Homo sapiens: one gene and its partners. The protein of the gene in region 1 purifies or fractionates together with the protein of each later gene. This does not show direct contact. Each region holds a gene or a part of one and is shown in the gene's direction. Other genes may lie near its edges. The genes, in order: KPNA5, KPNB1, SKP2, CHD8, AICDA, CHD4 and NUP153.

Region 1 (3,500 bases):
CTTTTCTTCCTCACCAGATATCTGTTACATTCATTTGGCCTCTAATTTTTACTGAATCAATTTCAGAAATATTTCTAGAATCCAACTTGTCTTCTATGTTTTCATTGTAGTAACTTGTTTAGTTCACGCCTTCAGCATCTTTCCTATCTCTCTCTCTGAACTATGTAAAAACAACCTTTTCCTTAATTTGTTTAATTCTATTCCTTAGGATCAAGTCCAAATTTCACAGCTGCATTATAGGAACCATATGTCCTCTAACCTACCTTTATAGCTTTATGTTCTGCCATGCATCCTCATTTTGGACACACTTAGTCTCTTACTGTTCTTGGTTATGCAAGGCTTCTTCAAAAACTTTGCCTTTGCATATATTCCTTCTGCTTGAAATGCTTGATTCTCCCCATTTCTCTTTCCTGTTTTTCCTTTAAAATAGGATACCCATGAAGCTTTCAGAAGTCCCTAAGGCACAATTAGTTGCCATATCTTCACTGCTCTCTCAAGATTTAAAGCATGTATTTTAGTGTACTCCTTACAATAAAATTTGCCAATTCATTAGTCTGTCTCTTCAATATCAGGGATGGCAGACAGATGCCAGCCTCTCCTTCTCTTGTGTTTACTTCATAAGCTAATTGGTCACAACATTGTCTCTGGTTGGACATGGATATGTCCTCTGAATTTAACAGAATAACATACTGGGTACTCACTATCTACTGTTAAACTGAAGTTGGCACCCTGCTTTAGGCAGATTTTGTGTGTGTGTGATGTGTAAGTCCAGAATAGGTTATAATATCAGTATTTTAATATTCCTATAAGATAATATCAAGATATCAATACTGTTACATTGTTAAAGTTTATAATTCACTTTCTAAAAGTAAAACTAGCACATATATTCAAATATGAAATATATTTGCATATATTTTATGTATTTATAAAATAGGTATATAAATGTTAATGTTTTAAAATACATTTGCAATAAAACTACTTAAAAATAAAGTATACATGTATTTTAGTATTTCAAAAGAACTAATTATACTGGAGTACTAAAAACTGATATTGTAGTCATAATTCAAGTCCTGACCCTTGTGGCCATAGCTCTTAAGGCAATGCCTTCAGTAAGTGAAAGAAGCCAGACCCCAATAAATATTTGAGATGTGCTTACTGGAGCCTAATATCATATTTCATTAAAAATAAGATACTTCAAAGCTGGTTATTTCTTGATCTAGCCAGAAACTGTAATTTAGAAGACTTTTTTTTTAACCCAAATAATTCATGATTATTTCCTGACAGTAATTATGTTTCAGAAAGGTTAAAACACTGTGGGGGCTAGGGAGACAGGAAAGGTTGTTGCATCTTAGAATCAATAAGATAGGGTAAACTTTGTCTTTGTTTAGACCAAAATTATTTGTTTAAGATATTATTTCTAAAATATGTGGTCATTTTGCTCTAATCTTGATGTGGAATTAAGGGAATGTATTCTTTGTACATAATTTTCAGAATGGGTTTTGTTGACCTGTTAATCAGTGAGCCTGAATTTAGTTGCTAGATTAAGTGTCTCATGTTGTTTTGAGAGAGTGAGTTATCAGTGTCTGTTTTCTTTTCTCCTTCCTTTAAGATGCCATGGCTAGTCCAGGGAAAGATAACTATAGAATGAAAAGTTATAAGAATAAAGCCCTAAATCCTCAAGAGATGCGTAGACGAAGAGAAGAAGAAGGAATACAGCTTAGAAAACAAAAAAGAGAAGAACAGGTAGGTGTTTTTAGCTATTTAATTTTGTTTTTTAAAATTTTAATTATTTGCTAATTATTGGATAATTTTAAATGGAAATGTTTTAAGAAATTGAATATAGCTAAATCTATTATTTATTAGACTCCAGGCATCATAATTGCAAATTTGTGAAACAGAACTCTGTGCTACTTTAGTCACTGGGAGAAATGGATTTTCTGTTTTATTGATAAACCTGTTGTGTTAATTATATTTTTACCCTACTGCTAGGAAATTTTTCCTCTTGCATCTATTTAGATCACTTCCATTTGTCATTGTAAAATTTGCCCCTTAAAGAAACATTAATTATATATTATTTGCTGCTTTGTAGTTTTCATAATTCTTGCCCGTAAGTAAATTATTGTCATCTTCCCATGCTATTCATACTGTTCCCCCATTGTCTTATTAGCTGGATCTCTGTTTATACTTTTCATATGTGACATAAAGAATATAAAATTGTTTAAGAGAGTACATCTCAACATTTTTTATTCCAAGATGTACTTAAATGTAGAAGTATTTGTAAGTAAGTAAAATAATGTGGTTCTCACACATGTGAATTAAAACTGATGTATGAAAAGGACTAGCAGTGAAGAAAGTAGAAAAGGCCTATTCTCTTCTATTGTATTCTATTCTATTGTATTCTGTAAGTAGAGATGGGGTCCTGCTATGTTGCCCAGGCTGGTATTGAACTCCTCGCCTCAAGCAATATTCCTGCCTCTGTCTCTCAAAGTGCTAGGATTACAGGCATGTAATAGGCAAGGCCTATTTCAGAAATATGATAATGATTTCTCATCTCCCTATCTACAGCGTCTAACACAATCCTTCATACATTATAGTAGGTACTAAAAAAATTGTGTTGAATAAATGATTAGAAGGAAGATTGTTTACATATTAAAGAAGAACAGGCTGGGAGCCCTGGCTCACCCCTTTAATCCCAGCACTTTGGGAGGCTGAGGCGGGCGGATCACGAGGTCAGGAGATTGAGACCATCCTGGCTAACAAGGTGAAACCCCATCTCAAAAAAATTAGACATGCGTGGTGGCTGGCGCCTGTTGTCCCAGCTACTCAGGAGGCTGAGGCAGGAGAATGGCGTGAATTCGGGAGGCAGAGTTTGCAGTGAGCCGAGTTGATGCCACTGCACTCCAGCCTGGGCGACAGAGTAAGACTCCATCTCAAAAAAAAAAAAAAAAAGAAGAACGATATTTATTTAGATGTCAAAAAGAATATAAGCAGATTTTGTTTTCCTCAAATTTTGATTTAGGAAATGTAGAGTTATCCCTTGGTTCCAGGATCCTCTGCAGATATCAAAATTCACTGATGCTCAGGTCCTTTATGTAAAATGGCATGGTATTTGCATATTACCTGCACACATCCTCTTGTATATTTTGAGTCATCTCCAGATTACTTATAATATCTAATACAGTGTAAATGCTGTGTAGTTGAGTTGTTATACTGTGTTGTTTTAAAATATGTATTATTGTCGGGCTCAGTGGCTTATGCCTATAATCCCAGCACTTTGGGAGGCCTAGGTGGGCGGGTCACCTGAGGTCAGGAGTTTGAGACCAGCCTGACCAACATGGTGAAACCCCGTCTCTACTAAAAATAAAAAAATTAGCCGAGCATGGTGGCGCACGCCTATAATCCCAGCTACTCAGGAGGTTTAGGCAGGAGGATCGCTTGAACCCAGGAGGTGGAGGTTGCAGTGAGCCGAGATTGTGCCACTGCACTCTGTCCTGGAGACA
Region 2 (3,500 bases), on another chromosome or scaffold:
TGGTTCCTTCCAGATGTATAGCTCATTTGTGTTGGCAGCTTGAATGGTTTTGGTTTTTTTATTTTGAAAACCAAAAAACTCTTGGTTTTTCATTAGGTTATTCAAGCCTAGCTCAGTCAGATTTGGTTCCCAGCTATAGTTCACTTGGCTAAAAATAAAGCCTTGAATTTGTACCGTCATCTTTTGAAACATTTGCTGTTTGACCTAATGTCAGTGACATTAGTTGAAACAAACGAGTGAGGAAGGAATGTTTGATGGGAGAAGTCAGGTTGGTTTGATTTTATCAAGTTTATTTCTAGGTCATCTGTAAATAGGTAGGATATAGGAAGGGTTGCTTTTTGTTTGTTTTATGAATAAGAGCTCTAAGGTGATAGGGCCTTCTCTAAAGCTGAAGTAATTTAACTATCATTCCAGTAAGACTGGACTATGGCGGCTACCAGCAGGGATTTGTCAGACAGTAAGACAAATGAAATTGAGAGGACATGACCTTCTGCACAACGGAGGATCAGCTCACGTTTGTTCTGAATTGAGAAACAGGAGAAATGTTAAAATGTATTGCTGATGATTGGTACTGTCAATGTTTTTGTGTATAAAATACATTTGGCATTCCCAAAATTAAAAAATATCAAGGGACTTAATTGATTTTAAAAAGAAAAGGTATAGTGTTCTGATTGGGAGATTTGGAATCAACTGATCTTGAACTCTTACTCATTTCACAGAATGTTCTTCGGAAAGTGCAACATCAAGATGCTTTGCAGATCTCTGATGTGGTTATGGCCTCCCTGTTAAGGATGTTCCAAAGCACAGCTGGGTCTGGGGGAGTACAAGAGGATGCCCTGATGGCAGTTAGCACACTGGTGGAAGGTCGGTGAGAAATACTGTCTGGTCAGGGAATGTCTTTGGAATGTAGGCATTTCAGTGGCCTTAAATAATTGTCACCCAGGCTGGAGTGCAGTGGCACGATCTTGGCGCACTGCAGCCTTGAAATCGTGGGCTCACATGATCCTTCCACTTCAGTGCCCCCACAGTAGCTGGGACTAACAGATGCACACCACCATGCCCAGCTAATTTTTATATTTTTGGTAGAGATGGAGTTTCGCCATGTTGCCCAGACTGGTCTTGAACTCCTGAGTCAAGTGATCCTCCTGCCTCAGCCTCCCAGAGTGCTAGGATTATAGATGTGAGCCACTGGGCCCAGCTTAATTTTGTTTGTGTGTGAAGATAGGGTCTCACTATATTGCTCAGGCTGGTCTCAAACTCCTGGGCCTCCTTGTCAGAGCATTAAAGAATTTTTGACTATAGAAAGCATAGTCCTTTTACTGGGGCATGAGTCACTTCAAAGTTAGATTGAACTTAAGTGCACACCACTTAAATTTGTATAACTGCCTTGTCAGTCCATTTAAATGGGGAGCCAGTTTGCAACGGAGATTGGCAGAGGTGTTGTTTTTTTTTTGTTTTTTTTTTTTGTTTGTTTTTTTTTTGAGACTTGTTCTGTTGCCCAGGATGGAGTGCAGTGGCACCATCTTGGCTCACCACAGCCTCCACCTCCCAGGTTCAAGCAATTCTCCTGCCTCAGCCTTCTGAGTAGCTGGGATTATAGGCATGAGCCACTGTGCCCTGCTAAAAGTTTCTATTTTCTTTCCTGGTACTTGTCATCACCTGGTTTGGTTTGTAGTGCTTTGGACTAAGATTGACACATCATGGTGCCTGGTATGGGATGAAATGAAACATTGAGCGAGTTCTAGGAATTGATTTTCTGATTTTTACATGTCTGACTGCAAAATTGGTTTGGGGAAGCCATATCTGACTTAAGACTCTTTGAAGGGGCATTACGAAGCACTTTAGGAATCTGATATGCCTTTTCAGGGGTGGCCTGTAAGTACATTGCTAAGGCCATTTACCTGAGGACCACTCTCCTGAGGACTAGACCTATTTTTGGCATAAACAGCCTATGTCCAACTGGTCTGTCAACATGTGACCACTCCTCTGAAAGGGCAAAGAAGTTAATTTTGGCTCCTGGAGTGGCTGATTTGGATCTGAAGCCCAGTGCTGCTTTTCCTGGCTGTGGCTTGTTTAGCCCTTGATGGAATTGCCTAAGGACCCTGTTTTGAAGCTGGCTTGCAGAAAGGACATGCTATTATCAGATGAGGAGGTGGACAAGAGTCAGTATTGCTGGTTCAGCCCATTTAAAATTAACCTTGACATTCCTTGAGGGTCATACCACTTGGTTGTATTAGTCAGAGTAAAGCCCTATTCTGTGGACAGTGGGCATTGTCTCTGTGGCGTATGAATTAGGGCCCTTCCAGCAGTAATAAATTTGGCTTATGCAAGCCTTTAATGTCTTCATGATGGAATCGGTAACTAAAGCACATTTCACCCAACCTGTTGAGTGGAGCGAGTACATTTTGGGAGAGGTAGGATGGGTTATTTCTGCCTGCCTCTGTGTTAACCCGTGGTGCTGTCATTGGCTAATAGCTTATTTCATTACAGTGTTGGGTGGTGAATTCCTCAAGTACATGGAGGCCTTTAAACCCTTCCTGGGCATTGGATTAAAAAATTATGCTGAATACCAGGTAGGATGTGCTTTTCAAAATAGTATGTTCCCATTTATATCTGACAGTCACTGTAGTGCACGCAAAACCAGGTTCTTATAGCTTAAGTAGTTTTTCCTGATACATTGTCCTAAAAGGCAAGCTACTTTATTCATTGCCTGAACGTTTGAACTGGAAGTAGTCCATGAAAAACAGGATATTAGATGTACCAGATAACGGTGGACAAGATATTAGATGTAACAGATAATGGTGGACAAGATGACTGTTTATTTGCTTAGACAGTACTAATGCAGGAGCAGCTATAAAGTTGAGCTATTAGCACCCTGGAGAGCAAGGCTTTTTTTTTTTTTTTTTTTTTAACTTTATCAGTGATCTCTCTCGGATAGTCTTTGTTCCCTGCCTGCCATGTTGGTTGTTGAAAAATTAATCTCGGCAGAGGGATTTAACTCTAGGTTCAAGTGATAAAAGCTCAGCAGCTAGTTAAAAATAATATCTTGCCCCAGCAGGCAGCCTTTTCTGTTAGAAGATTATTTCCTTGATTCTTGGCAGGTTTGTTTGGCAGCTGTGGGCTTAGTGGGAGACTTGTGCCGTGCCCTGCAATCCAACATCATACCTTTCTGTGACGAGGTGATGCAGCTGCTTCTGGAAAATTTGGGGGTGAGTATCTACACACAATCTAATTAACCAGTCTTCTTTGAAGAAAACAACAGTTGGAAAGATAGTTAAATATCGACCAGGCTGGGCGCAGTGGCCTGTAATCCCAGCATTTTGGGAGGCCGAGGCAGGCCAGGAGTTCGAGACCAACCTGGACAACATGGTGAAACCCCGTCTGTACTGTAGATACAAAAAAAATTAGCCGGGCGTGATGGCAGGCGCTTGTAATCCCAGCTACTCGGAAGGCTGAGGCAGGATAATCGCTTGTACCCGGGAGGTGGACGTTGCAGTGAG
Region 3 (3,500 bases), on another chromosome or scaffold:
CTTTTTGAACTTACGTGAGGGCCTGTCATTCCTGTGCTCAGAATCTTCTAGTGGTGCCTCATAGAATTCAGCGTCAAAGCCAAAGGCTTTATCATGACCTAGGAAGCCTGCATGACCTGGCTGCTCTCTGATTTTTCTACCCACCTACCTCTGCGCTCTACACTGGCCTCCTTGCTATGCCTCAAACACACATGCTGTTCCTTGGATCTAGAACACGTACACCAGATACTCACAGGGCTCACTCCCTCACTTTGTTCAAGCCTTTGCTTAGTGATCGTCATCTCAGTATGGCCTTCCCTGACCACCATGTTCAAACTTAATAACATCTGCTCTGAACTCTCTGTTCTCTCCCTTGCCCTGTTTAATTTTTCTGCACAGCACAGATCAATTTTACTATATCATATAATGTACTTATTTTTTGATGTGTGATTATCTGTTCCGCATTACTGGAATGAAGTCCCACGAAGGTAGTGTTTTGGGTCTGATTTACTACTCCTTCCCAACACCTAAAATGATACCTGGCACCATAGTAGGAGCTCAGTAAATATTTGTTGAATTAAGAAATGACAATACCCTTTTGTATTGCTCTTTTAGGTAAACTGTGCCTTTTGTAAACCTGAAAGAAAGCATATTAGTCTGTTCTCATGTTGTTAATAAAGACATACCCAAGACTGGGTAATTCATAAAGGAAAGAGGTTTAATTGACTCACAGTTCAGCCTGGCTGGGGAGGCCTCAGGAAACGTACAAGCTTGGTGGAAGGGGAAGCAAACGTCCTTCTCCACATGGCGGCATCAAGTGCAGAGCAAAGGGGTCGGGGAAGCCACTTGTAAAACCATAAGATCTTGTGGGAACTCACTTATCACCAGAACAGCATCAAATTACAGGGGCGGTTATCACCAGGTAACCGTCCCCATGATTTGATTACCTCCCACTGGGTCCCTCCCGCAACACATGGGGATTATGGGAACTACAATTCAAGATGAGATTTGGGTGGGGACACAGCCAACCATAGCAGAAAGGGAAGAAGATTTATTTGCCTTTTAAATAAGGTCACTACTGAGTCCACATCAGAGAGAAACAAGGCCTTCCTTTGCACCCAGAAGCACCACAATATCTTATTGATGTCAATGAATTGACAATGTCATTGAATGACATTTGAGAGGGTGGGACTTGCTCTGTACCACTCTTCATGCCACAGCCTCCGATTGGCTGGCTAGAGCTGAAGGGAAGAATAGGAAAAGTGTTCTGGGTTTCTCTTTTTGATTTGCTGAGAGAGTGTGGTGGTCACTTCAGGGTACATAGATGATGGAATGGGGAATTTAACACGAATTAAATTACTCATCACCACAATTATTTTTCTGTTCAACAGAAATGATTTTTCAAACAAAAATAATTGTGAGGATGAGTAATTTAATTTGTGCTAAATTCCTCATTTAAGCTAAATGTTGTATATTCTTTATGTGTTTGAAAAGACTCAGTAGACTTGATAGGGTGAAAGAATGGTGATGGCAAACACTTGTTTTCCCTCCAAAGGTGTTTCATGGGACTCCCTTCCGGATGAGCTGCTCTTGGGAATCTTTTCCTGTCTGTGCCTCCCTGAGCTGCTAAAGGTCTCTGGTGTTTGTAAGAGGTGGTATCGCCTAGCGTAAGTATTTTTCACCCCTTTGGCAAACGTAGGGGAGGAAGAGGAGAGGAAGGTTATTTATTCGTTTTGGTCTGATGAAACTAAAAACCAAGAAAAATAGAGCAGCGCAAAGCAAACTAGGTATCTTCATATTTTTATTAATCAGTGTCCTCATTTCACAGTGGAAGAGGAATTTCCTGGGAGGGATAAACTTACCAATGTCTGGAAACCTCTTTGCCCTGTATTCAGTGCAGCATGTGTTTATGGGATGCTGACTGTAGGCCAGGCGGTGTGCTTTAAGTGCGGAGAGAGTTACAGAGGTGCATGCAGACAGCGGTTCCTCACGCCGCTGGGCTGAGCAGTGAGCACAATAGGGAGAGGGAACACAGGCTTGGTGTTAGACCCGAGTGCACACCCAGCCTCTGCTGCTTACGCTCTGCATGACCTGAGTGAGTTAGTTGACACTGCTGAGCCTCAGTCTCCCCATATGTAAATGGGGATAATGGTTATGAGGAGGAAACCACTGGTTATGAGGATGAAATGTGAAGATGCTGGTGTAATGCCTGACTCACAGACATGTTCCACACAGAGTAGCCATTGGTGGGGTTGTGCTCTTTTTTTGGCAACACTTTTCAAGTGTGGAAGGTGAGTTGCATGTGGAAAGACTTGGTGAGCTGGAAAGGCAATAACAGGCCTGGAGCAAGAAAAAGGCTATGTTTATCAACTGGAACTTTTTACTATCTTCATGCCTTCTCATCCCTATCCTACCTCCTGGTCATTCTTTGCTTTGTGTTTAAAGGCCATCCGTCTGGCTTCTCCCTCCACATACTTAGAACTCCCTGTGTGAGATAGCAGGAGCCTCTTGCCTTCAAGGGCGTGCTGCTATTTACAGGTGTGGGTTGTTTGCTTAGAAGAGCCGCAGAGAGGGTTGCACACCTGGAATGCTGGTGCAAGTGGCAGGCAAGTTTCACTTACCCTCACCGCACTCAACCCCACTTTGGTTTTCTTTTTCTGCCAGCTATGCATTTATCCTCTTCTTGCAGAGTCTGTTAATCCCATTTTAAAATTTTATTGTATATATTTAAGGTATACAGCATGATATTTTGTTATAAGTATGTGAAATGGCTGCTATCATTAACATATTCATTATCTCACATAGTTACCTATTTTTTGTGGCAAAAGCACCTAAAATTTACTCTTTTAGCAAACATTCTGACTACAATACAGTATTATCGACTCTAGTTCTCCTGTTGTATACTATATCTTGGGATGTGTTCATCCTGCATATCTGTGGCTTTGTATTCTTTGACCTACATCTCCCTTAGAGTCTGTTAAACTTCATCTCAGTTGTCATAAAAGTAATTACTGACATTTATTAAGCACTTGCTTTGTGACAGGTGCAGTGTTTGCAATTTAATCCTCCATATGATTTTAAGTGATGGTGTTTGTGTCATCTCAGCTTCAGAGGTGAGGAAACTGCAGGGTCAGGAATAGTAGGTTGAGAGATAAGTGGAAAGGCAGGAATCTAAAGTTTGGCTAACTCCACGGTCTTAACCATCATACCATATCTAGTTATGCTTGGCTTAGGGTTCAGGTAGCTCCCAAATTCATTTTTCTGTGAGGTGTTCATCTTCCTAAAAAATGTATATTATTTGGAAAGAAAATGAATTGTTCCAAAACTTCTCCCAGGTTGTTGTTATTGAATGCTGGTTAAGCTATAGTTTGCCTTCTTGCAAGAGGAAACATCAAGCATGAGATTCAAGACAACCAGAGCAGTGCTGATCTGGTGTCAATACCAATACCTTGGAGGCCAAAATGGATTTCTGTCTGGGCAAGAAAGATACAAAAGTGTGCCACTCTCTTAAGGATATCTTA
Region 4 (3,500 bases), on another chromosome or scaffold:
ATAAAAACAAAAAAGCGTGAACCATACAAATGAAATAATAAAAAGTAAATAGTTGGGTAGGAGGAAGAATTACATAATAAAAGTCAAGAAAAAGGAACTGTGTTGATCAAAGTGTTTCAAATTCAAGCAATTACGAATGGTACATTGTCAATTTCTTATAATTATTTGTATTCCATTGGATGCTATACCAGACTGACCCAAAGTTTTGCACCTGGCCTGCCATTCCTGTAAACACGAAATTAAATACTAGGCCAGGCACTGTGGCTCATGCCTGTAATCCCAGCCCTTTGGGAGGCCACAGTGGGTGGATCACAAGGTCATCAGTTCGAGACCAGCATGGCAAATAAGGTGAAACCCCGTCTGTACTAAAAATACAAAAAAAATTAGCCAGGAGTGGTGGCGCATGCCTGTAATCCCAGCTACTTGGGAGGCTGAGGCAGGAGAAACACTTGAACCCAGGAGGCGGAGGTTGCAGTGAGCCGAGATGGCACTGCTGCACTCCAGGTGATGGAACAAGACTCCATCTCAAAAAATAAATAAATAAATAAATAAATAAAAGACTAGGCCAGGATGGGATCACTTGAGCCCAAGAGTTTGAGACCAACCTGAGCAACATGGTGAAACCCCATCTCTACTAACAATACAAAAATTAGCCTGGCATGGTGGTGGGTATGTGTAGATCCCAGCTACTCAGGAGGCTGAGGCAGGAGAATCGCTTGAACCCGGGAGGCACAGGTTGCAGTGAGCTGAGATCATGCCACTGGAATCCAGCCTGGCCTACAGAGTGAGACTCTGTGTCAAAGAATATATATATAAAAATAAAAATAAGGCCAGGCATGGTGGCTCACTCCTGTAATCCCAGCATTTTGGGATGCCAAGGCGTGTGAATTATTTGAGCCCAGGAATTTGAGATGAGCCTGGGCAATATGGCAAAACCCCACTTCTAAAAAAATATGAAAATTAGCCGGGTGCGGTGGCACACACCTGTAGTCCCAGCTACTCAGGAGGCTGAGGGAGGAGGATCGCTTGAGTCCAGGAGGTTGAGGCTACGGTGAGCTGTGATAGGGCCATGACACTCCAGCCTGGGCGACAGAGTGAGACCTGTCTCAAAAATAATACTAATAAAGATTATTTCATGCTGGATATATGTGTGGCTAGGTCTTCATCCTAGGTTCCCTTAGTGATAGAAGATACATTATTAACATTTTCTTGTGCCTCTCCATAATTTTAGGGTTGACTTTGATAAAGATTGTGAAGATCCTGAATATAAACCACTCCAAGGTCCCCCAAAGGACCAAGATGATGAGGTAAGGAATTCTCATTTGAGTCTCACTTTTCTCTATTACTAAATAGTTTTAAGTCTTCAACCATTCTCTGAATCTTGAAATATATTGGTTAATTTATAATACAAAATGGAAAATGAATTATACCATTTGAGAATAGAAAATATTAATGGAAAGGACTGTAATGCCAGTAGGGGGAGATCAGGGATAACTTTATGGAGGAGCTGGACACTGAAAGATATTATTTGACTAATAAATTCCTGACTTCTATTATCTTTGAGTCGTTAATAGGAACTGACCTTTCAGGTTCTACTTTCTTGTTCTTTTAGTTGATTGTTTCCAAGTTTTTGTGGGGATATATTTCTTTAGAAGTTTTTCTTGATCCCTTGGTGCCATAGAAGGACACACACAAGAAAGTGATTTCAGAGTGCCAACTTCCCCCCCTTTCCCTCCCCGCTCCATCCTATTGGGTGGATCTCCTTCTCTAGGGTGATCCCTTGATGATGATGGATGAGGAGATCTCAGTGATTGATGGAGATGAAGGTAAACTTCTAGGTCAACTAGTATAATTCTGTGTGGGGTGGTGGGTTGGGGAATTATTCACTGAATTCTGTCCTATCCTGGGATTTCTAAGAGCTTTGCCTTTGGGTGGGTTAAAATACTAGTATTGCCTCTACTACCCTTGCTATACTTCCTATTCATTCTACTTTGTTTTCCACAGCCCAGGTGACCCAACAGCCAGGCCATTTATTCTGGCCTCCGGGCTCTGCCCTAACAGCTAGGCTTCGGCGTCTAGTAACAGCGTATCAGCGCAGCTACAAGAGAGAACAAATGAAGATAGAGGCTGCAGAACGTGGGGACCGGCGAAGGCGGCGTTGTGAAGCAGCCTTCAAGCTGAAAGAAATTGCACGGCGGGAGAAACAACAACGGTAAAATATAGCTGGGAACTTGTGCTGATCTGTGTTTTCAGTTATGGTCCCTATACTGAAAGCCATCTCAGGAAGGATTTATTTGGAATTCTCTACAGAGGGACCATCTTTTCTGCCTTGGGTAGTTAAACCTGTAGAAATTAAAACCTCACTTGCATGCAGTAATCATTAACTCTCAGGTAGGTCTCCTGTGTAGACATTTTCATTGATATTTGTCTGTGTCTTTTCCCCCTTGGCTCTGTAATTCTTACTCATTACAGAGTACCTCTCACTACCTCTTCTGGGCCTTTTTTTTTTTTTTTTTTTGCGTCTACTTTCAATTTTTGTGTTTTCAGATATTCTAAAACACATTAAAAAATAACCAGTTTTCTTGTGTTCTTCTGATGTGTTCTTCTGATTATTGTTGCCCTACTTTTCCTTTTGTAGATGGACAAGGCGTGAACAAACTGATTTTTATCGAGTGGTGTCTACGTTTGGTGTGGAATATGACCCTGACACCATGCAGTTCCATTGGGATCGCTTCCGCACTTTTGCTCGACTAGACAAAAAGACAGATGAAAGCCTTACCAAGTACTTCCATGGCTTTGTGGCCATGTGCCGCCAAGTATGCCGCCTTCCCCCAGCAGCTGGAGATGGTAAGCAAGATTGCAGAGTGGGTGAGGATGGATGCCAACAGAAGCAACTCTGTTAATTTCTTCTACTCCTGTCTCTTGCAGAACCCCCCGACCCTAACCTGTTCATTGAGCCCATCACTGAGGAGAGAGCCTCACGGACTCTCTACCGTATAGAATTGCTTCGGCGCTTACGGGAACAAGTTTTATGCCACCCCCTTTTGGAAGATCGGCTGGCATTGTGTCAGCCTCCTGGTCCTGAATTGCCCAAATGGTGGGAGCCTGTTCGGCATGATGGGGAGCTTCTAAGAGGGGCAGCCCGCCATGGGGTGAGCCAAACAGACTGCAACATCATGCAGGACCCAGACTTCTCTTTTCTGGCTGCCCGTATGAATTATATGCAGAACCATCAAGCAGGAGCACCAGCTCCATCCTTGTCACGCTGCTCTACTCCACTGCTGCACCAGCAGTATACCTCACGCACTGCCTCACCACTGCCCCTGCGCCCAGATGCTCCTGTTGAAAAGTCACCCGAGGAGACAGCTACCCAGGTCCCCAGTCTGGAGAGTCTGACTTTAAAGCTAGAGCACGAGGTGGTGGCCAGGAGCCGACCAACCCCACAAGACTATGAGATGCGAGTATCCCCCTCTGATACTACCCCTCTGGTTTCCCGGAGT
Region 5 (3,500 bases), on another chromosome or scaffold:
TACATTCAACATGGTGATCCCCAGAAAACTCAGAGAAGCCTCGGCTGATGATTAATTAAATTGATCTTTCGGCTACCCGAGAGAATTACATTTCCAAGAGACTTCTTCACCAAAATCCAGATGGGTTTACATAAACTTCTGCCCACGGGTATCTCCTCTCTCCTAACACGCTGTGACGTCTGGGCTTGGTGGAATCTCAGGGAAGCATCCGTGGGGTGGAAGGTCATCGTCTGGCTCGTTGTTTGATGGTTATATTACCATGCAATTTTCTTTGCCTACATTTGTATTGAATACATCCCAATCTCCTTCCTATTCGGTGACATGACACATTCTATTTCAGAAGGCTTTGATTTTATCAAGCACTTTCATTTACTTCTCATGGCAGTGCCTATTACTTCTCTTACAATACCCATCTGTCTGCTTTACCAAAATCTATTTCCCCTTTTCAGATCCTCCCAAATGGTCCTCATAAACTGTCCTGCCTCCACCTAGTGGTCCAGGTATATTTCCACAATGTTACATCAACAGGCACTTCTAGCCATTTTCCTTCTCAAAAGGTGCAAAAAGCAACTTCATAAACACAAATTAAATCTTCGGTGAGGTAGTGTGATGCTGCTTCCTCCCAACTCAGCGCACTTCGTCTTCCTCATTCCACAAAAACCCATAGCCTTCCTTCACTCTGCAGGACTAGTGCTGCCAAGGGTTCAGCTCTACCTACTGGTGTGCTCTTTTGAGCAAGTTGCTTAGCCTCTCTGTAACACAAGGACAATAGCTGCAAGCATCCCCAAAGATCATTGCAGGAGACAATGACTAAGGCTACCAGAGCCGCAATAAAAGTCAGTGAATTTTAGCGTGGTCCTCTCTGTCTCTCCAGAACGGCTGCCACGTGGAATTGCTCTTCCTCCGCTACATCTCGGACTGGGACCTAGACCCTGGCCGCTGCTACCGCGTCACCTGGTTCACCTCCTGGAGCCCCTGCTACGACTGTGCCCGACATGTGGCCGACTTTCTGCGAGGGAACCCCAACCTCAGTCTGAGGATCTTCACCGCGCGCCTCTACTTCTGTGAGGACCGCAAGGCTGAGCCCGAGGGGCTGCGGCGGCTGCACCGCGCCGGGGTGCAAATAGCCATCATGACCTTCAAAGGTGCGAAAGGGCCTTCCGCGCAGGCGCAGTGCAGCAGCCCGCATTCGGGATTGCGATGCGGAATGAATGAGTTAGTGGGGAAGCTCGAGGGGAAGAAGTGGGCGGGGATTCTGGTTCACCTCTGGAGCCGAAATTAAAGATTAGAAGCAGAGAAAAGAGTGAATGGCTCAGAGACAAGGCCCCGAGGAAATGAGAAAATGGGGCCAGGGTTGCTTCTTTCCCCTCGATTTGGAACCTGAACTGTCTTCTACCCCCATATCCCCGCCTTTTTTTCCTTTTTTTTTTTTTGAAGATTATTTTTACTGCTGGAATACTTTTGTAGAAAACCACGAAAGAACTTTCAAAGCCTGGGAAGGGCTGCATGAAAATTCAGTTCGTCTCTCCAGACAGCTTCGGCGCATCCTTTTGGTAAGGGGCTTCCTCGCTTTTTAAATTTTCTTTCTTTCTCTACAGTCTTTTTTGGAGTTTCGTATATTTCTTATATTTTCTTATTGTTCAATCACTCTCAGTTTTCATCTGATGAAAACTTTATTTCTCCTCCACATCAGCTTTTTCTTCTGCTGTTTCACCATTCAGAGCCCTCTGCTAAGGTTCCTTTTCCCTCCCTTTTCTTTCTTTTGTTGTTTCACATCTTTAAATTTCTGTCTCTCCCCAGGGTTGCGTTTCCTTCCTGGTCAGAATTCTTTTCTCCTTTTTTTTTTTTTTTTTTTTTTTTTTTAAACAAACAAACAAAAAACCCAAAAAAACTCTTTCCCAATTTACTTTCTTCCAACATGTTACAAAGCCATCCACTCAGTTTAGAAGACTCTCCGGCCCCACCGACCCCCAACCTCGTTTTGAAGCCATTCACTCAATTTGCTTCTCTCTTTCTCTACAGCCCCTGTATGAGGTTGATGACTTACGAGACGCATTTCGTACTTTGGGACTTTGATAGCAACTTCCAGGAATGTCACACACGATGAAATATCTCTGCTGAAGACAGTGGATAAAAAACAGTCCTTCAAGTCTTCTCTGTTTTTATTCTTCAACTCTCACTTTCTTAGAGTTTACAGAAAAAATATTTATATACGACTCTTTAAAAAGATCTATGTCTTGAAAATAGAGAAGGAACACAGGTCTGGCCAGGGACGTGCTGCAATTGGTGCAGTTTTGAATGCAACATTGTCCCCTACTGGGAATAACAGAACTGCAGGACCTGGGAGCATCCTAAAGTGTCAACGTTTTTCTATGACTTTTAGGTAGGATGAGAGCAGAAGGTAGATCCTAAAAAGCATGGTGAGAGGATCAAATGTTTTTATATCAACATCCTTTATTATTTGATTCATTTGAGTTAACAGTGGTGTTAGTGATAGATTTTTCTATTCTTTTCCCTTGACGTTTACTTTCAAGTAACACAAACTCTTCCATCAGGCCATGATCTATAGGACCTCCTAATGAGAGTATCTGGGTGATTGTGACCCCAAACCATCTCTCCAAAGCATTAATATCCAATCATGCGCTGTATGTTTTAATCAGCAGAAGCATGTTTTTATGTTTGTACAAAAGAAGATTGTTATGGGTGGGGATGGAGGTATAGACCATGCATGGTCACCTTCAAGCTACTTTAATAAAGGATCTTAAAATGGGCAGGAGGACTGTGAACAAGACACCCTAATAATGGGTTGATGTCTGAAGTAGCAAATCTTCTGGAAACGCAAACTCTTTTAAGGAAGTCCCTAATTTAGAAACACCCACAAACTTCACATATCATAATTAGCAAACAATTGGAAGGAAGTTGCTTGAATGTTGGGGAGAGGAAAATCTATTGGCTCTCGTGGGTCTCTTCATCTCAGAAATGCCAATCAGGTCAAGGTTTGCTACATTTTGTATGTGTGTGATGCTTCTCCCAAAGGTATATTAACTATATAAGAGAGTTGTGACAAAACAGAATGATAAAGCTGCGAACCGTGGCACACGCTCATAGTTCTAGCTGCTTGGGAGGTTGAGGAGGGAGGATGGCTTGAACACAGGTGTTCAAGGCCAGCCTGGGCAACATAACAAGATCCTGTCTCTCAAAAAAAAAAAAAAAAAAAAGAAAGAGAGAGGGCCGGGCGTGGTGGCTCACGCCTGTAATCCCAGCACTTTGGGAGGCCGAGCCGGGCGGATCACCTGTGGTCAGGAGTTTGAGACCAGCCTGGCCAACATGGCAAAACCCCGTCTGTACTCAAAATGCAAAAATTAGCCAGGCGTGGTAGCAGGCACCTGTAATCCCAGCTACTTGGGAGGCTGAGGCAGGAGAATCGCTTGAACCCAGGAGGTGGAGGTTGCAGTAAGCTGAGATCGTGCCGTTGCACTCCAGCCTGGGCGACAAGAGCA
Region 6 (3,500 bases), on another chromosome or scaffold:
ATCTGTCTGCTTCAGCTTCCCAAAGTGTTAGGATTACAGGCGTGAGCTACTGCGCCTGACACTTCATGTTATTATCTTTATTTATTTATTTTATTATTATTGTTTTTTTTTGAGACAGACTTGTCACCCAGGCTGGAGTGCAGTGGCGTGATCTTGGCTCACTGCAAGCTCTGCCTCCTGGGTTCACGCCATTTTCCTGCCTCAGCCTCCCGAGTAGCTGGGACTACAGGCCATCGCCACCATGCCTGGCTAATTTTTTTTTTTTTGTATTTTTAGTAGAGACGGGATTTCACTGTGTTAGCCAGGATGGTCTTGATCGCCTGACCTTGTGATCCGCTCACCTCCTCCTTCCAAAGTGCTGGGATTACAGGCGTGAGCCGCCGCACTCGGCCTATTTATTTATTTATTTATTATATTTTTTGAGACAGAGTCTTGCTCTGTGGCCCAGCCTGGAGTGCAGTGGTATGATCTAAGCTCACTGCAACCTCCGCCTCTCAGGCTCAAGTGATTCTCTGCCTCAGCCTCCAGAGTAGCTGGGATTACAGGCGTGTGCCACCACGCCTGCCTAATTTTTTTTTTTGAAATGGAGTCTCGTTCTGTCGCCCAGGCTGGAGTGCAGTGGCGCAATCTCAGCTTGCTGCAACCTCCGCCGCCCGGGTTCAAGCAATTCTCCTGCTTCAGCTTCCCGAGTAGCTGGGATTACAGGCACCTGCCACCATGCCCGGCTAATTTTTGCATTTTTAGTAGAGACGGGGTTTCTCCATGCTGGCCAGACTGGTCTTGAACTCCCGACCTCAGGTGATCCGCCTGCCTTGGCCTCCCAAAGTGCTGGGATTATAGGCGTGAGCCACCGCGCCCGGCCTGATGCCTGGCTAATTTTTTTTTTTTTTTTTAGTAGAGACGGGTTTCGCCATGTTGGCCTGGCTGGTCTTGAGCTCCTGGCCTCAAGCGATCTGCCTGCCTCAGCTTCCCAAAGTGCTGGGATTACAGGCGTGAGCCACTGCACCCGGCCAACACTCTATGTTAATTATTAACTGACTGAATTCTGGTGTTTGAGCTCTAGGAAAGTATAAATTAGAGATAATTTTTGGTCAGAGACTGGTACAGTAGAGGCTCTGAAAACGTGTGATCTGTGGCATACCTAGAGGTCTGGTGTGAAACAAACGGTATTGCCAGTTTTTGAGAGGAAGTGAGGAGGGTTGCCTTTTCTGGCTCTGAGGGTTTTCTCTCCTGGACTTGCAGTGTGGACAAGAAGGGCCACGTCCACTACTTGATCAAGTGGCGGGACTTACCTTACGATCAGGCTTCTTGGGAGAGTGAGGATGTGGAGATCCAGGATTACGACCTGTTCAAGCAGAGCTATTGGAATCACAGGTGAGTGATTTTGGGTGAGGCATAGAGTTGTTTCTTTTTTTTTTTTTTTGAGATGGAGTCTTGCTCTGTCACCAAGCTGTAGTGCAGTGGCGTGATCTTGACTCACTGCAACCTCCGACTTCCTGGTTCAAACGATTCTCCTGCCTTAGCCTCCTGAGTAGCTGGGATTATTTGCATACGCCACCACACCTAGCTGATTTTTTTTTTTTTTTTTTTTGAGACGAAGTCTTGCTCTTGTCCCCCAGGCTGGAGTGCAATGGTGCGATCTTGGCTCGCTGCAGCCTCCGCCTCCTGGGTTCAAGCAATTCTCCTGCCTCAGTCTCCCGAGTAGCTGAGATTACAGGCGTCTGCCACCATGCCCAGCTAATTTTTGTATTTTTAGTAGAGACGGGGTTTCACCATGTTGACCAGGCTGGTCTCGATCTCCTGACCTCAGGTGATCCGCCCGTCTCAGCCTCCCAAAGTGCTGGCCTCCCAAAATGCTGGGATTACAGGTGTGAGCCACTGTGCCTGGCCAAGTTGTTTCTTCTATAGAAAAGGATTTTGGGCAGCTGTGTGATGTCTTTCTTCTTTAGGGAGTTAATGAGGGGTGAGGAAGGCCGACCAGGCAAGAAGCTCAAGAAGGTGAAGCTTCGGAAGTTGGAGAGGCCTCCAGAAACGCCAACAGTTGATGTGAGTGGGGGTGGAAGGGACTGTAGTTTGTTGGGTAGGACAATGTATCTTTGCTGCAGTCTAATGATGGTACTCTTAAGTAATGAAATGCAGATAGTAACTTTGTAGCTGAGATTACTTCACAAAGTCGGCTTCCCCACTTCTCCACATCTCTATATATCAGAAAGCACTAGGATTACTTTCTTCTTTTGTCATCAGAAAAAAAAAAAGGAGGTATATTTTGAATGATTGAAGAAGTGTTGTCTGGGGGGAGGGGCCACATAGCCTAGCTTTTATGCACTTACATAGGAATCTGGCTTAATTCAGGCTCAGTTCCTCTGGGTTTTGTTTGTACAGTGTAATTTGAGGGTGATTAAAGTTAAAAAGATGAATCTAAGAGGGACATAACGATTATTTACCTGGTGGATCCTGACTAGTAGAATTATTGTATTGGTAGGGAGTCTGTGACGTGCTTTTCCTCAGTGATCTGTAGGATCAAAATCAGGTCTGGTTAAGCCCTGTTTCCTGGAGGACCCTAAACTGAACATGAAATTGCAGTAATCATAGGGGATCTCTTCCCTCCGAATTTTCCGGAGCTCTTCCCCAAGAGGATCCGTGAAGACTAGTGAGGAGGAAGCAGCTGCTCTATTAGGGGAGGAGGGGAGTTCCTTGCCAGCTCTTGACTTCTCTGTTTCATCCTTCAGCCAACAGTGAAGTATGAGCGACAGCCAGAGTACCTGGATGCTACAGGTGGAACCCTGCACCCCTATCAAATGGAGGGCCTGAATTGGTTGCGCTTCTCCTGGGCTCAGGGCACTGACACCATCTTGGCTGATGAGATGGGCCTTGGGAAAACTGTACAGACAGCAGTCTTCCTGTATTCCCTTTACAAGGAGGTAAGGAAATCTGGGGTGGATAGTTTTTTGTGTGGGTGTTTTGTGTTTGAAGCCTTAACTTACACTGAGTAGAGAGATAAGGGAATAAAAAAATTGGTCTCTGACCTTCAAGAACACTGTGGATAATAGATAAACACATGTACACATGTGTTTAGTAGATAGTAGATAAATGTGATAGTGGATAAACACATGTACACAGCGGAAGATTTGAGGGCATGGAGCCCTGGGTAGGATTAGCAGTGGATCCATAGAGTATCAGTTCTAGGGGAATGATTGTGTGTTGAGGGAAGTAGAATTATGAGTAGAATTAGTATGGAAAGGCTTGGCTGGACGCAGTGGCTCATACCTGTAATCCCAGCACTTTGGAAGCCCGAGGTTGGTGGATCACCTGAGGTCAGGAGTTCGAGACCAGCCTGACCAACATGGCGAAACCCCGTCTCTACTAAAAATACAAAATTAGCCGGATGTGGTGGTGCACGCCTGTAATCCCAGCTACTTGGGAGGCTGAGGCAGGAGAATCGCTTGAACCCGGGAGGTGGAGGTTGCAGTGAGCTGAGATTGCGCCATTGCACTCCAGCC
Region 7 (3,500 bases), about 99 Mb from region 1:
GTGGGCCAGGCATGATGACTCATGCCAGTAATGCCAGTGCTTTGGGAGGCCGATGTGGGAGGATCACCTGAGGCCAGGAGTTTAAGACCAGTCTGGCCAGCCATAGTGAGACCCCATGTCTACAAAAAAGTAAAAAAAAAAATGAGCTAGATGTGGTGGCATGCGCCTGTGTTCCTGGCTACTTGAGAGGCTAAGGTGGGAGGATTGCTTAAGCCCAGGAGTTTGAGGATGCATTAAGCTATGATTGCACCACTGTACTCCGGCCTTGCTGACAACAAGACACTCACTCTCTGTTTTGAAAAAGAATGATTTCTGTGGCTGCATAAGTATTTCATCATGTCACTGTTATGTAATTTATGTAACCATATACCCTTATTTAATATTTTACCATATAGGTTTTCAATATTATAACTGAAGGATATTTTCAATTATATTAATAGTGTGAATTTCTAAAAATGAAATAATTGCTCAGTTGAAAATTACTTTTTTTGATTAGTTTTGTAAATTGTTGTGTAATCAGATATTTCATGCAGTGGATGGGCTTGCCCTAGTTGCCATATCCTCTCCAGTTTTTTAGTTTGATTGTTTTGATTATCAGTCAGTTAATTGGACGATAATTATAGTTTATATTTTTTTGCCTTTTTATTGGTGGGGGAAGTTATATAGTATGGGAATAGTGTTTTTATCTCCTTGTAATGGCAAATTATCCCTGTAAAGTCATTTGTTTATTGAATTAAAGTGACTTTTTTCATGAACTTTTAGAAATTAATCCAAAAGATGGTTTTGAAAGATTTTTAAAAATGCATTTGAGAGTCCAGTGTTTTATTTGGCATAATGTTATTAAATTTAAAAAAATTACAGCTCATCATGTCACTACAGTGAACAGTACAAATTGTAAGAAGACACCACCTGAAGATTGTGAGGGTCCTTTTAGACCTGCAGAAATCCTGAAAGAAGGAAGTGTTCTAGATATTCTGAAAAGCCCTGGTAAGATAATTAAAAGATAAGCCTTTTGATTACAAACTCATGATCTCAATTTAATGTCATTTTGTATTATACTTTAGGCTTTTAAAAATTTCTGACTAGTTTGGTAGGAGATTTACTTTTGAATAGAGATGTAGTTAGGTGTAATTCTTTTGCTGGAAATATCTTACAAGCCAAAGGACTCTATACTAAAATGAAATTTCTAATAGGCAAGTGTAGGAGGAGGAAATGGATTCTCCATTAATAGAGGTAGGTCAGTGAGGAATAAGAGTAAGTAAACCTGATGATACACATAGACATGTCTTTCTCTTATGAGAGCACTGAACTGCCTTCTTGAATTATTCCCCAGTTTGGTAAATATGGAACAAGGCCAAGTGGAAAGCATCTGCTGAATTGTAACATATACATAGGGAGCAGTACTCACTTGAATTGAAGCAAGATTTGAAAGCTAGTAGGTAATAATTAGAAAGGGGATAAATAGTTCTCAGATAAGAATAATTTTTTGTTTGAAAACAGGATGTTCATAATTCCATTTATGATACATAGTATAAGAATGTAAAACTTGCCAGGCGCGGTGGCTCACCCTTGTAATCCCAGCACTTTGGGAGGCCAAGACGGGCAGATCACTTGAGGCCAGGAGTTGAAGACCAGCCTGGCCAACATGGCGAAACCCCATCTCTATTAAAAAGAGAAAAAATTAGCTGGGCGTCCTGGCATGCACCTGTAGTTCCAGCTACTCGGGAGGCTGAGGCAGGAGAATTGCTTGAACCTGGGAGGTGGAGGTTGCAGTGAACCGAGATCGAACCACTGCACTCCAGCCTGGGCGACAGAGCAAGACTCTGTCTTTAAAAAAAAAAGAAAGGAAAAGAAAAAAAGAATAAAAGAATGTAAAACTGTGAGATAATCTAATAGCTCAGAAAGAATTTAAACGTACCCACCAGATGTGTCCATGTGTAATAAGATAGGTTTTCTTAAAAAATAAGGTTGGCTTTTACAACAGGATTTAGGAGGATTCAATTTTTCTGGTCCAGCTCTCTCATTTTATAGATAAGTATACTGCCTACAGGAGTCCAGTAGCTTGGACAGTTCCATGCAGTTATGGTAGAACTCCAGAGTGCTTGTGCTGGAATTAACCAAGTAGTAGGCAAGCCTCAAATGTGTATAGTCTGTCTTGTGTATCTGGGGTTACACTTTGCATTCATGATGCCAACCTCCCCCTGCTCCCTTTTTACTTCTTAAATAGGAAATGTTTGGGGAGAATCTTCATTTGACTGAAATTAGGAAAATCTGAAAAAGTAGAAGAAAAAGAAATCTGTAATGCCTTGAGATGGTTACTGTTAATATCTTGCCAATCTTAGTGATTTAAATTAATCATAAGCAAAATAACACGTTGCCCACTGGGAATAACTCAAGCATGTGGTATTTTGTCCTTAAGCTAAAAATAGCTCTAGGCTGGATTATTTTGTGGAACTAGAAAACCTCTAATAACCTTCTACATCTTCTCTCCTTTTAATTTCTTTTTCTTTGGCGGGTAAGGCTGGAGAAACAGATCACAGATGGTGGTGTTGTGTGTAAGACAAAAGTTAACTGGTCCTAAGTAAACAATTACAAAAGTCATTCTCATGAGTAAAATACAGCTTGAGTGAATGAACTCAATGACAGCAGTTTTGGTAACAGAAGGACTTGCTCAGCTGATTTTACTGAAGGTAGAGAATACCACAGCAGTAGGTTATGACTGGACAAAATTCAAAGATGACATTGAAGCCATTTGGTGTAGCCAATGGAACACTTAAAAGAAGAAATGGATGAAGGAGAAAGAGGACTGCGAGTATTGTGTGTTTGTAGAGAGACAGAATATAGCAAAATGTGGATGGCAATAATACATATCAGTAAATTAGTACCATTGAAAGCATCAAACTAGAAATTCCTTGAAGGAGAAGGTGATATCCTGTAAACAAAACATCTTTTGTAGAATTTTAAATGGTTTAAGTGTAACTTATTAGGTAATTGATAAATATGATTACTTAAGTGAAAAACAATTCTTAAGTAGTTCATCTTGGATTGTAGTAAGTGTGCAGTGAGGTAAACGTCTTCTCAGTAATAATAATCAAATTAATGCTTTGATTTATAAAGCTTCTCTAACGTTGCACTCTCTCCTTCGTTCATTGTAGGTTTCGCATCGCCGAAGATAGATTCTGTTGCTGCTCAGCCCACCGCAACAAGCCCAGTAGTTTATACAAGACCAGCAATAAGTAGCTTTTCTTCTAGTGGAATTGGGTTTGGGGAGAGTTTAAAAGCTGGGTCATCATGGCAGTGTGATACATGTCTACTCCAGAACAAAGTTACAGACAACAAATGCATAGCCTGTCAAGCAGCAAAATTGTCACCCAGAGATACTGCTAAACAGACTGGAATTGAAACACCAAATAAAAGTGGCAAAACAACTCTTTCTGCATCAGGGACAGGCTTTGGAGACAAATTTAAACCAGTGATAGGCACTTGGGATTGTGATACCT

What was found.
Region 2: the proteins of KPNA5 (region 1) and KPNB1 purify together in Homo sapiens (affinity purification with mass spectrometry; 2 studies listed by BioGRID and IntAct, with this or other methods). This does not show direct contact.
Region 3: the proteins of KPNA5 (region 1) and SKP2 purify together in Homo sapiens (pull-down; one study listed by IntAct). This does not show direct contact.
Region 4: the proteins of KPNA5 (region 1) and CHD8 purify together in Homo sapiens (affinity purification with mass spectrometry; 3 studies listed by BioGRID and IntAct, with this or other methods). This does not show direct contact.
Region 5: the proteins of KPNA5 (region 1) and AICDA purify together in Homo sapiens (pull-down; one study listed by IntAct). This does not show direct contact.
Region 6: the proteins of KPNA5 (region 1) and CHD4 purify together in Homo sapiens (affinity purification with mass spectrometry; 2 studies listed by BioGRID and IntAct, with this or other methods). This does not show direct contact.
Region 7: the proteins of KPNA5 (region 1) and NUP153 purify together in Homo sapiens (affinity purification with mass spectrometry; one large-scale study listed by BioGRID and IntAct). This does not show direct contact.

What each region holds. Positions count from the first base shown.
Region 1 is NC_000006.12:116,687,711-116,691,210, forward strand, and holds part of KPNA5 (importin subunit alpha-6), read left to right. Parts: intron 1-1,609; coding exon 1,610-1,743; intron 1,744-3,500. UniProt on the Homo sapiens protein: Functions in nuclear protein import as an adapter protein for nuclear receptor KPNB1. Binds specifically and directly to substrates containing either a simple or bipartite NLS motif.
Region 2 is NC_000017.11:47,673,919-47,677,418, forward strand, and holds part of KPNB1 (importin subunit beta-1), read left to right. Parts: intron 1-719; coding exon 720-864; intron 865-2,490; coding exon 2,491-2,573; intron 2,574-3,101; coding exon 3,102-3,209; intron 3,210-3,500.
Region 3 is NC_000005.10:36,162,111-36,165,610, forward strand, and holds part of SKP2 (S-phase kinase-associated protein 2), read left to right. Parts: intron 1-1,534; coding exon 1,535-1,646; intron 1,647-3,500. UniProt on the Homo sapiens protein: Substrate recognition component of a SCF (SKP1-CUL1-F-box protein) E3 ubiquitin-protein ligase complex which mediates the ubiquitination and subsequent proteasomal degradation of target proteins involved in cell cycle progression, signal transduction and transcription.
Region 4 is NC_000014.9:21,393,624-21,397,123, reverse strand, and holds part of CHD8 (chromodomain-helicase-DNA-binding protein 8), read left to right. Parts: intron 1-1,231; coding exon 1,232-1,307; intron 1,308-1,771; coding exon 1,772-1,826; intron 1,827-2,004; coding exon 2,005-2,212; intron 2,213-2,638; coding exon 2,639-2,847; intron 2,848-2,928; coding exon 2,929-3,500. UniProt on the Homo sapiens protein: ATP-dependent chromatin-remodeling factor, it slides nucleosomes along DNA; nucleosome sliding requires ATP. Acts as a transcription repressor by remodeling chromatin structure and recruiting histone H1 to target genes.
Region 5 is NC_000012.12:8,602,860-8,606,359, reverse strand, and holds part of AICDA (single-stranded DNA cytosine deaminase), read left to right. Parts: intron 1-874; coding exon 875-1,145; intron 1,146-1,437; coding exon 1,438-1,553; intron 1,554-2,022; coding exon 2,023-2,076; 3' UTR 2,077-3,500. UniProt on the Homo sapiens protein: Single-stranded DNA-specific cytidine deaminase. Involved in somatic hypermutation (SHM), gene conversion, and class-switch recombination (CSR) in B-lymphocytes by deaminating C to U during transcription of Ig-variable (V) and Ig-switch (S) region DNA.
Region 6 is NC_000012.12:6,593,880-6,597,379, reverse strand, and holds part of CHD4 (chromodomain-helicase-DNA-binding protein 4), read left to right. Parts: intron 1-1,242; coding exon 1,243-1,374; intron 1,375-1,949; coding exon 1,950-2,046; intron 2,047-2,729; coding exon 2,730-2,921; intron 2,922-3,500. UniProt on the Homo sapiens protein: ATP-dependent chromatin-remodeling factor that binds and distorts nucleosomal DNA. Acts as a component of the histone deacetylase NuRD complex which participates in the remodeling of chromatin.
Region 7 is NC_000006.12:17,637,426-17,640,925, reverse strand, and holds part of NUP153 (nuclear pore complex protein Nup153), read left to right. Parts: intron 1-861; coding exon 862-987; intron 988-3,155; coding exon 3,156-3,500. UniProt on the Homo sapiens protein: Component of the nuclear pore complex (NPC), a complex required for the trafficking across the nuclear envelope. Functions as a scaffolding element in the nuclear phase of the NPC essential for normal nucleocytoplasmic transport of proteins and mRNAs.